Regions from separate parts of the Homo sapiens genome. Here region 2 is linked to region 1. Evidence: fine-mapped expression QTL. A gene starts in region 1. The other region holds a variant in brackets. All regions are shown on one strand. Distances are between the middles of the regions. Region 1 holds the start of KLHL25 (kelch like family member 25). Region 2 overlaps AKAP13 (A-kinase anchoring protein 13).

Region 1 (5,379 bases):
TCGAATCTGGGCGATGACATGCCTTTCTCATCTTAGTCAAGGCATCCTCTCCCCAGGAAGCCTTGCCCACCTGTGTCTCCTTCTCTCCTCTTGCTGCCTCTATCACTACGATGTGTCAGGGCCCCTAATCCATGTGCCAGCACTCCCTCATCTAGGTGCTCACTAAAGGAAGAGTCTCCAGCACCTAACTCAGGGCCTGGCACACAGCAGGTGCCCAATCAAGTCTGTTCAAACAATGAATCAATCAATCAATCAGTCACAAACCACCCACTAAATAACACTCTCACTCATCCTACCCTTCCCCCCGCCCCCGCCCAAGTGATAGACGGGACGAACCAAGCTTGCTTTCACTGGGTAATTGTTCTCTTTTCTTCCTGCTCTCTTCTGCCCACACGGGGTGCCCGCAGATTTAAAACGCTATTAAGGGGCATCGGGCTGCAGAACCTGCTTCCGATGTGGAGCATGCAATTTGCCTATAGCTCTTCTCTCCGCACCACATACATAAATCCAACTGCAGCCCAAGACCCCAGGATGAAGGTGTCTTCCATTTCTACCTCCCTTTTATCAACCACCCTGGAGTCACTGCCTGACAAATGACTCAAAACTGAAATAGCTGCCAGGCCGGAAAAAGACTGACTACGTCAACCTTCACAGGCACAGCTTGTGGACCCAAGAGCCTCCGGTCTTGGGACACCAAATGGACCCTGAGGTGGGGTAGACTTTGTGTCCTACTCTTCCCCAGACCCCCACGCAAGCCTTCACCAACATGCCAGGAATCCTCACAGCTCAGATCAGCACACTGAGCATCAGTTCCTCCTATGAATGGGGAGACTGGGACCCAGGGTCCCAGAGGGCTTGGCCCCATAACGGTCACTGGAATCTGGTCCAGGATACAGACCGTGGAATCCTGCCTCCTCTCCTGGTGCTACTGCTAACTTCCTTCCCTTCCTCTCTCTATTGGGCCGATAGAGTGGAACCAAATGGTCCAGACACCTGGCATTCTCTGCCCTGACTACCGAGGAGAGTCAAAGTCCAGCCCGCCTTCCCCAAGGTCAAATTCACCGGGATCCAGCAGGACCCAAGAGCGTCCAGATTAAATCTGCAGGGGCCTGGGTCCGCCCCCTCACCCACAGTTCGTTGGGTCAGGCCTCTAGAGAGATGTTTCTTTGTTCAAAGACAATGGGAATGCACTTTGGGGGCTTAGAGCAGCAACACAAAAAAAGTATCTGGTATCTCCCGGGCACAATCCCCCAAGAGAAAAGCTTCTAAAGCAACTACGAAAGAGACAGGGGGAGTGGGGGCGTAACATCGCGCGGTGTGTCTCGGAGCCAGGGCAAGTGTGGTAATTAGAGTCAGGCTAGAGGGCTTGCTCTGGACCTGCCAGTCTGGCCGCCACCCAGGTGGACAGGTGGGTGTGCCTTTGAGTGCGACCTTTCTCTGCCGCTGGACAGTTCTGCAAACCGAAACGAGGGACCCTGGCAGGCGGAACGTGAACGGCTCGGGGCTCCGCGGCCAGGCCCGCGCAAACCCTCCCCTTGTGAACCCCGGGCCCTCGCTCTGCGCCAGGCAGGCAGCCATCCGGCCTGGGCGTCCAAGGCGCGGGGCATCGCCGCTCGCGTCCTCAAAGACAAGCAGTCTCTCTTTCCAGGATCAATAGTAATTTTTTAAAAAAAAGAGTCTGCGGACTCAATGAATCAACCACTCCCTGGGGAAAGAGTAGCGGCTCCCGCGCGCAACATCCATTTGCCAAACAATTCATTCCCTCGCGCAGAGCTCTCGGCGAATTCCCTCGCGGAGCCGCGGGGTGCCGGCCGGCCGCCGCTCCCCACCATTGTCCCAGGGCCCCGGCCCCAGCCGCGGGGCCCCCTCCCGGGACACGTAGTCCCGCGGGGGCTCCGAGCGCTTGGTCCCGGCCCGGCCCGGGGTGGTGAGTCCCCAGCGCAGGGAGCGGGGGCGCGGGTGCTGCGGCCAGAGCACGGCGTCCCCGCCCGGCCTGGATACTCACTGCCGGAGACGATCCCCGCCGCCGCCGCCGCCTCAGAGACCACTCCCGGCAGCCCGCGCGAGCTCAACAGGCTCCGCCGCGGCTCCCGTCGGCCGGCTCTCCACAGGCAAAAACGCTCTCGCTGCGATACAGCCTAGGCGCCGCCAACAAACTAGTTTCTCCGGCCTTCCCGCCCCGCCTCCCGGCCCGAAGAGCAGCAGCCAATCAGAGGCATCGCCTCTGTGACGGATGGGCAGCCGAACCCTTCAGTGCAGCCGCAGAAAAGAAGGGGGTGGGCCCCAGGCCGCGCCGGCACCGGGGGGTGGGGGGCCGGGGGCGGGGAGGGGGGGGGACCGGGGGCGGGGCGGGGCGAGGAAAAGGACTTCGACCAGATTCTTAAAGAGACAGGCGCCTGCCCAACCCCGCCGCCCAAGTTTGGGAACAAAACGCGACGGTGTTCTAGAGCTTTCCAGAGGGAGCACTGTAGATTGCATATGCCTCTTTTGTGTTCGGGTCACAAGTGTTGTAGATCTCTTTAGACTCTTCAGAGCCACACTAGTAGTTGCCCGAGTGTTAATGAAACCCTGTCTTTCACTCTGGGCTTGTTTGAATGTTTGGGACTTTCTGCAGCCTCCAAACCCCACCTGTACTTGAAATCTGTATTTTTTGGAGTATTTCAGCTCTCCTCTCTGTGTCATTTCTCACTAAACTCCTTTCGTAAGCCAGCCTTTAAATGTTCGTTCATTCATTCATTCATCCATCCATCCAATAATTTCTTCCAGGAACGTTTCCTGGACGCCCACACCATGCACTCATCTTGGAGGGGGAGAACGGTTTGTGATTCTTCGTCCTTTTCCCTCCTGACTACTACTTCAGCTTACTGTGTGTGTCCAATCTCATCCGTAAAGCGGCAGATAAAAACTCCTCATCGGATTATTTGGGGGATTAAAGGAGACAAATTCCCAGACAAATGAGTGCGCAATAAATGTCCTCTCTTTTCTCCCTCCCAATGAAAATCGATAATTCAAGTAGGTTGCTTAAGGATACAAAAGGTAAAGCATAGAAAGTGATAAGAACGAAAGAGCCAAGCCTGGGGCGGGGAAATTCCCAGGAAGCAGAGGTCACCCTGACGGAGGTGGAGGTGGGAGGTGCAAGGAAGGTCTAAGAAAGTGTACAAAGATTTGGGAGAGGGGATAGGATTGTGACTAGTGGAACCTGGGAAATAGAGCCCCTGGGTAGAAAGCTGCTTAGACAGGACAGATATGCCAGGGTTAAAAGACTGGGAGATGATGAGAAGATACCACCAGGGAAGGCATTTTTGGGAAACAGCTTGATGTTCTGGGTTTGAAGCCCCGCCCTGCCCCTCAAGAGCTGGGTAGGACTGAAGCAGATGGCTCAGACTCTCTGGTGTCTGGTTCTTACTGGTGAAGAGGATTCTAAAACCTTTCTTGCAGGGGTATGGGAAAGATTAAGATAACATATGGAATAGGCCTGGCATGTAGTAAGTGCTCAGTACAGATTTGTGCTTCCATTTGGCCCAGATCTGCAGACATCTAAGGCACCAGGGTTCTGATATTTATGAACAATATTGGCCAGAGGTAAGAAGCTTGCCAAGTGCACTGTTAAGGTGCCTTCTGAAGAGAAAAGGTAGTGAGAGGTGAAGCCAGCTGGACTTTCTGGGTCCAGTGGGGACTTGGAGAACTTTTCTGTCTTACAAGAGGATTGTAAAATGCACCAATCAGCGCTCTGTATCTAGCTAGAGGTTTGTAAAATGTACCAATTAGTGCTCTGTAGAAATGCACCAATCAGCACTCTGTGGCTAGCTAGAGGTTTGTAAAACGGACCAATCAGCACTCTGTAAAATGGACCAATCAGCAGCACATGGGCCTGGACAAATAAGCTAATAAAAGCTGGCCGCCCCCCAGCCAGGAGCAGCAACCCACTTGGGTCCCCTTTGGCGCTGTGGGGGCTTTGTTCTTTCGCTCTCCACGGTAAATTTTTCTGCTGCTCACTCTTTGGGTTCACGCCACCTCTAAGAGCTGTAACACTCACCGTGAAGGTCCGCAGCTTCATTCCTGAAGTCAGCGAGACCACCAACCCACCGGAAGGAACCAGCTCCAACACATTAGCATCAAAGTAATTACTTCATTAAGGAAATGACAGAGATCACATTTGTAGTTTTATCCTGCCGATTTTCTAGCACTAGAGTGTTTATAGAATTGTTGGTTGAATGAAGCTCCACATGCAAAATTGATTCTTGGCAAGTTTATAACTGTTGCTTATTATTTTATGCAGGTTCGCTGTAAAATTATAAGTGCCAACCGCCCAGTAAAATCTGGTCCACATTATAATTTTTTCTCTCTTCAACTCCAAGGCTTAAATTAGGTACTAGAATATATTAAAATCAAATACAGTGTAAGCAATGGGACAAAATCAGACTAAGAACACGTGTGGAGTTAATCGAATTTAGGTACGATTTGAAAGAAGATGAGAGGAAGAGCGGAAGTTTGCCTTGCCATCTATTGCGGACCCTGGAGCATTACCGTCAACGCAGCCCTTACCAGCCAGTGTTGTAATGGCCTGCTTAGCTAGTCCACCTGCTGTGCAGGGAGCTCTGGGAGGGCAGGGACCATGAATTCATCTCAGAACTCTTAGGGCTGCATCAAAGTTGTCTACACAGTTTTGAAATACTGTGAATAAATCTCATATCCGTTAGAATTAGTTTTTACTGCATATGACAGAAAACCCAAAATTAACTGTGACTGAAACAAGATAGAAGTTTCTTGCTTATGCAAAATAAAGCTAAAGTTAAGCTATCCTTTGTTGGCAACTCCACAGTTGTCAGAAACACGGGCTACTGTATTTTTATTCCTTCATCTGTAATGCTTGGTTCCCATTTGCAAGGTTGCCCCATAGTCCAAGATGGCTGCTAGGGCTCCAACTCTGACACCTATATCCCAGACAGTAGGAAGGAATAATGGCGGAAGAGCATGAGATGTGTGTCTTCCAGCCTGGTTAGCTCTATTTATGCAGACTGCAGAAGTCCCACACAACACTTTTGTTTATGGACAGAATTTAGTTTTCCTACCTGCAAGAGCAGCTGGGAAATGTAGACTTTTATGTTAGTACATCACCTCCTCAAAGTCAGGGTTCTGTTAACAAGGAAGAGGGAATAGATGCCTGTTGTCCACCAACAATCCTTACCAATACCTTCCTCCCAGCATTGCCATCTAGCTAGTATTCCTGGTGGCCCAGAATCTGAAGTCTCAGAAATTCTGGGATGATGTATAGAATTCAATATATGTTCGTTAATAGATGATCAAATTCTTGGTTCTTTTTTTTTTTTAAAGATGGGGTTTCACTCTTGTTGCCCGGGCTGGAGTGCAATGGCGCAA
Region 2 (5,379 bases), 160 kb before region 1:
ATGGTTACACAACTCTATGAATATACTAGTACTATTGAATTATATACGTTAAATGGGCCAGTTTTCTAGTATGTGAATTACATCTCAATAAGGATGTTAAAATGCAAAATAACACACACACACTTTCTCTCTCTCTCTCTCTCTCACACACACACACACACACACACACACACACACACACACACACACACACACTAAATGCAATGTGGTGATTTGGATGGGATCCTGGAACAGAAAGAGAACACTAATGGGAAAACAAGTGAAATCCAAATAAAGTCCGGAGTTTACTTAATAGTAATGTACCAGTGTTGGTTTCTTAGTATTGACAACTGTGTTATGGTTATGTAAGATGTTAACGTTGGAGAAACCAGTGAGGAAGGGAGTGGGGATAAACGGGAACTTTCTGTGCTGTCTTTGCAAACTAAAGTTATTTCTACTTTTTATGTATACTATTTTTTGTATCAGCCTGAAGTTGTTACAAAATAAGTTTATCAAGATAAATTTTTTAAAAATAAAAGAAATATATAACCATTGAAGAAAATTTGGGAAACTACAGGAAAGTTAAAAGGAATATAAGTTGTCTCTTTGTGGTCGTTCAGACATATCCACCCAATTGAAAATAGATTAGGAGATTGCACCACAGAAGTGTAACATGTCAAGAGATTTTTGGCTGCCACTGTGTGTAAAATTTTTAATACTATATAATATATACTAATTGTTAATGTGGTGGATCGGAAATTGTTCCGTACTTGCAAGCTGGCAAGTTAACTTACATCCTGACACAGTTTCATGGGTGCTGGCTGAAGTCATGGCATTCTAGGGTCAGAGACAGGTAAATGTATTACTCATTGCATAGCCAGCAGCATCAGCATCACCTTCTCGTTGGTTCTCCTTGCTTCCTAAGCCCTATGCAGGCAACACGAAGGGGTCCAGGTTGATGCTGTGTCACAGCTGAGAAATCTAAACCTGAAGAAATCTGAATTTTTATACAGTGGACAGTAAGCCTGTGTGACCTTTGCCCTTGACTGAGACATTATCTTTATAATACTGGACAGAAACAAACCTGCCCTTTGCTTCGGAAGGAAACAGTATTTTTATCTTCTAAGGGTGTTTGATATACAAACAGTCTTGAAAAGATAGTCTAGAATAAAAGGACCATCAGGGCTTTTGCTGATAAAACCTGCAGAAATGCAAGAGGGACATGGAGAATTGTTTTCCAACATGATTATGTTCTCATCACTGTTATTATGTTCTCATCACTGTTACTCAGAAATTAGCATATTTACTTAAAGATATGTAACTTTAATTTTGTTCTAGTAGTATGTGTTTATTGTATATAATTTTGTAAAATATGAAACTCACTTTATGTAACACATGTACCTAAAATGACAGGAAAAGTATAGAGAGTCTTAGTTGCTTGCATATTCAAGGCAAATAATGTTCACTTTACTCATTGGCTGTGGAATGACATGTGGTATTGAGAAGGTAATGAAAAGTATTCTAAGAAATAAAATTTTTTTTTTTTTGAGGCGGAATCTTGCTCTGTCGCTAGGCTGGAGTGCTGTGGCGTGATCTTGGCTCACTGCAACCTCTGACTCCATGGTTCAAGCGATTCTCCTGTCTCAGCCTCCCAAGTAGCTGGGACTACAGGCATGTGCCACCACGCCCAGATAATTTTTGTATTTTTTCAGTAGAGACAGGGTTTCACTATGTTGGCCAGGATGATCTCGAACTCCTAACCTTGTGATCCGCCTGCCTCGGCCTCCCAAAGTGCTGGGATTACAGGCATGTGCCACCGCGCCCGGCAGAAATAGAATTTTAATAGGGTTTTCTAAACTGTTGGCCCCTTGTTGAAGGTCAAGGTAAGAGACAGTAATATGGTAATTCGTAGTAGTTCATTTCCACATTCTTTACTTATCACTAAAGAATCATCTGAGCTCTTTTATTTCTGTAAACTAAACTTGTTGCTGTATTCATGCAGCCTCTTCTTATTACAGGAATAATAGGGGCGGGGGGGGAGTAATTTTTTCCCTTCCAGCTTAAAAGTGTAGTTTTGTATTGCAGTACAGTGGTTCTATTAGCAGAGAATCTTATTTCACAGTAAGTAAAATTTGGCTCATTGCAAATGAAATGCCATTTGAAATTAAGAGAAAATTCTCTGAATGACTTTTTTTTTCTTTTTTTTTTTTTTTTTTTTTTTTTTGAGACGGAGTCTCTCTTTGTCACCCAGGCTGGAGTGCAGTGGCACAATCTCGGCTTACTGCAAGCTGAGCCTCCCGGGTTCACGCCATTCTCCTGCCTCAGCCTCCCGAGTAGCTGGGACTACAGGCGCCCGCCACCACGCCTGGCTAATGTTTTTGTATTTTTAGTAGAGACGGGGTTTCACTGTGTTAGCCAGGATGGTCTCGATCTCCTGACCTCGTGATCTGCCCACCTCGGCCTCCCAAAGTGCTGGGATTACAGGTATGAGCCACTGCACCCGGCCTTTTTTTTTTAAAAAGGAAAATGTGTTGTTTCAATTCTTTGAAAGATGTGGATAGGGTGTTGGTAAAGTTACAAAATTTGTGGTTACTTCCTTATTGTGTATACCTTAAAGTACCTTTCAGAAAGGATATTTTTAAATATGTGTAATCCCAGGGCACCTGCTGAAGATTCAGTTCCATTCAGGATTACTTTTAAATTTTTGGCATCATTTTGTAACACACCAGGAACTGAAACCTTGATGGCCCCTGATTCTTGCTGTTTTTGCTCTCTGTAATAGTAAAATAGCTGAACAGAGCAAATGATAAAGTGTTTTGTTTCATGTGGTTCTAGTTTGCCTGGTTATTTGCAAGCAGTTTAATTCCTTTCATTCATTTTATTG[T/TCAAA]CAGTTATAATTTGACAAAATGTCTCTAGCTTTCTGCCTTATGCCACTTAGCATATACAGTAAAACTGTTGATCTTTGTCAGCAGAAGAGTTTAAGATTCTCACTAAAGTGATCAGAAATATATTTTAGAGGTTATTGAATAAAATCAAGGCTTCTGTCTTTGAGCATACAAATATTCACAACTACTTAGTAGTTTGTTTAGATATTTCTGCTCATATTATTTAGAATTACATCTAAGTATGTCAGTTTTAATGATTAAAGGGTTATAATGTTAAGGTGTGTGGGAATTGTGAAGACTAAAATTTATTTTATATTTTATACTTCTGTTTTTGAGAATGTATTTGTTTTCAGCTTTATTCTGGTATAAATTTCCATACAACAAAATTAACCAATATAAGTTTATAGTTTGGTGAGCCTTGACAAATATTTAAATTGTGTAATCACTACCGCATCATAATAGGAACACTTCTGTCAGCTCAGAAGTTCTGTTCTGTCTCCCTGTAGTCAGTCTTCTCCTTCATTCTCTGCTGATCACTAATGTTTTCTTGCTACTGTAGGCTTGCCTTTTCTAGATATTGCATGGATAGAACCATACAATACATAGTCTTTTGAGTCTGGCTTTTTTTTTTTTTTAACTTACCGTAATACTCTTGAGATTCATCCATGTTGTTTGTATCAGCAGTTCATTTCTTCTTTCTATGAATCTATAACATTGTATGGATATATTATAATTTGCTTATCCATTTACCATTTGATGGCAATCTGGACTGTTTCTAGTTTGGAGCTCTCATGAATTAAAGCGCTTTAAAAATTCCAGTGCAAGTCTTTGTGTGACAGTAGGTTTTGATTCTTCTTCGGTAAATGAATGGAATGCTATGTTGTATGTAAGTATATGTTTGACATTATGAAAAACTGCTAAACTGCTTTCCCAAAATGGCTGTACTATTTTGCTTTCTTTCAGCAACAGTACTGTGTTCTAGTTGCTCCACATCTTTGCCAACATTTGGTATTATCAGTCTCAAATTTTGACTCTTGTAATGGATGTCTGCTGCTATGTCCTTGTGATTTTAATTTACATTTTCCTGTGGATTAATGATGTTGGGTATCTTTTTTTTGCTTATCTGCCTTTCGTATATCTTTTTAAATAAAATGTTTATTCAAATCTTTTACCCATTTAAAAAATCATGTTGCTTTGTTACTGCATTGTAAGAGTTTCTTTTATTTTTAAATATTCCGGGTAGGAGTTCTTAGCAGATAATTGTTTTATAAATATTTTCCTTCAGTTTTTAGTTTACCTTTTTGTTTTCCTAACAGTGGCTTTTGAGGAGTAAAAGTTTTTAAGGTTGACATAGATTTATCCTTTTTTTTCATGTTTTAAAAAATGTACTATTTAAGAAATCTTTGTGTAACCGAAGTTCCCATAAAAGTGTTTCCCTCTGTCTTCTTTAGGAGTTTTATAGTTTTAGGTTGAACATTTAGATATATAAAGTATTCTGAGTTCATTTTTATAGGTGGTAAGGTTTGGGGTAAGATTTTAGATCTTGGGGAGTTGTATTTGTTTACATATTAGTATCCAGTCGTTATAGCATCATTTGTTCATAAGACTATTTGTTCCTCATTAAAATATCTTGGCATCTTTGTCAGGAATCAATGGGCCATATCTGTGAAGGTCTGTTTGTGGATTCTCTCTTCTCTGCCATTGATCTATATGTCTGCTGTTTAATATCACCCCGGTTTGGTTAGTGCAGCTTTTATAGTATGTCTTGAAATCATGTAGTGATCAATTTGAGGACAATTAACAACTGTATTGAGTCTTCTGATCTCATGGAATCTCTGTATTTATTTAAGTCTGCATTAATTTTTCTCAACAATGTTTTATAAAGGTTTCAGAGTATGAGTCTTACTCATATTTTCTTAAAATTATCCCTAATTATTTTATATTTATTGAGGCTTTTGTAAATGGTATTGCTTTTACTTTTAATTTCAATTTCTAATTGCTCATTGCTAGTATGTTGACTTTGTGTCTGGCAACCTTGCTTTTATTAATACATTATTTATTCCAGTATTTTTATAGATTCCTTAGGATTTTCTACATAGGCAGTCACGCCATTTGTGAATAAACCAAGTTTTACTTCTTCCTTTCCAATGGTATGCGTTTTCTTTCTTTTTCTGCTTTACTGCACTGGATAGGACCTCCAGAATATTGTTGAATAAAAGTGATGAGAATGGACATCTTTGGTTACTGATCTCAGAATGAAAGCATTTAGTCTTTCACCAATAAATATAATGTTAACCGTAGGTTTTTTATAGATGCCTTTGTCAGGTTGAGTAATTTCCTTTCTGTTCCTAGTGTTCTGAGAGTTTTTATCATGAATAGATGTTGAATTTTGCTGATTTTTTTTTTTTCCTTTGAGGCAGATTCTTGCTTTGTTGTCCAGGCTGGTGTTCAGTGGCACAATCACGGCTCGCTGCAACCTCTGCCTCCTGGGTTCAAGTGATTCTCATGCCTCAGGCTC

Evidence for each region. PIP is the estimated chance that this variant, and not a neighbour inherited with it, causes the effect. A credible set is the group of variants that fine-mapping cannot tell apart.
Region 2: its variant is the best candidate, but not a certain one, in a credible set for the expression of KLHL25 in whole blood (INTERVAL, PIP 0.77).

Annotation. Positions count from the first base shown.
Region 1 is chr15:85,792,761-85,798,139 of GRCh38, forward strand. It overlaps KLHL25 (kelch like family member 25), which reads right to left and starts at 2,165. Exons shown (of 3, transcript NM_022480.4): 1 at 2,006-2,165. RefSeq lists silencers at 1,836-2,135, 2,286-2,355.
Region 2 is chr15:85,631,359-85,636,737 of GRCh38, forward strand. All of the region lies in intron 8 of AKAP13 (A-kinase anchoring protein 13), which reads left to right. Among named protein-coding and RNA genes, the nearest start is that of LINC02883, 120 kb to the right of the region's middle. The variant T/TCAAA (reference allele first, on the strand shown) is at 2,864.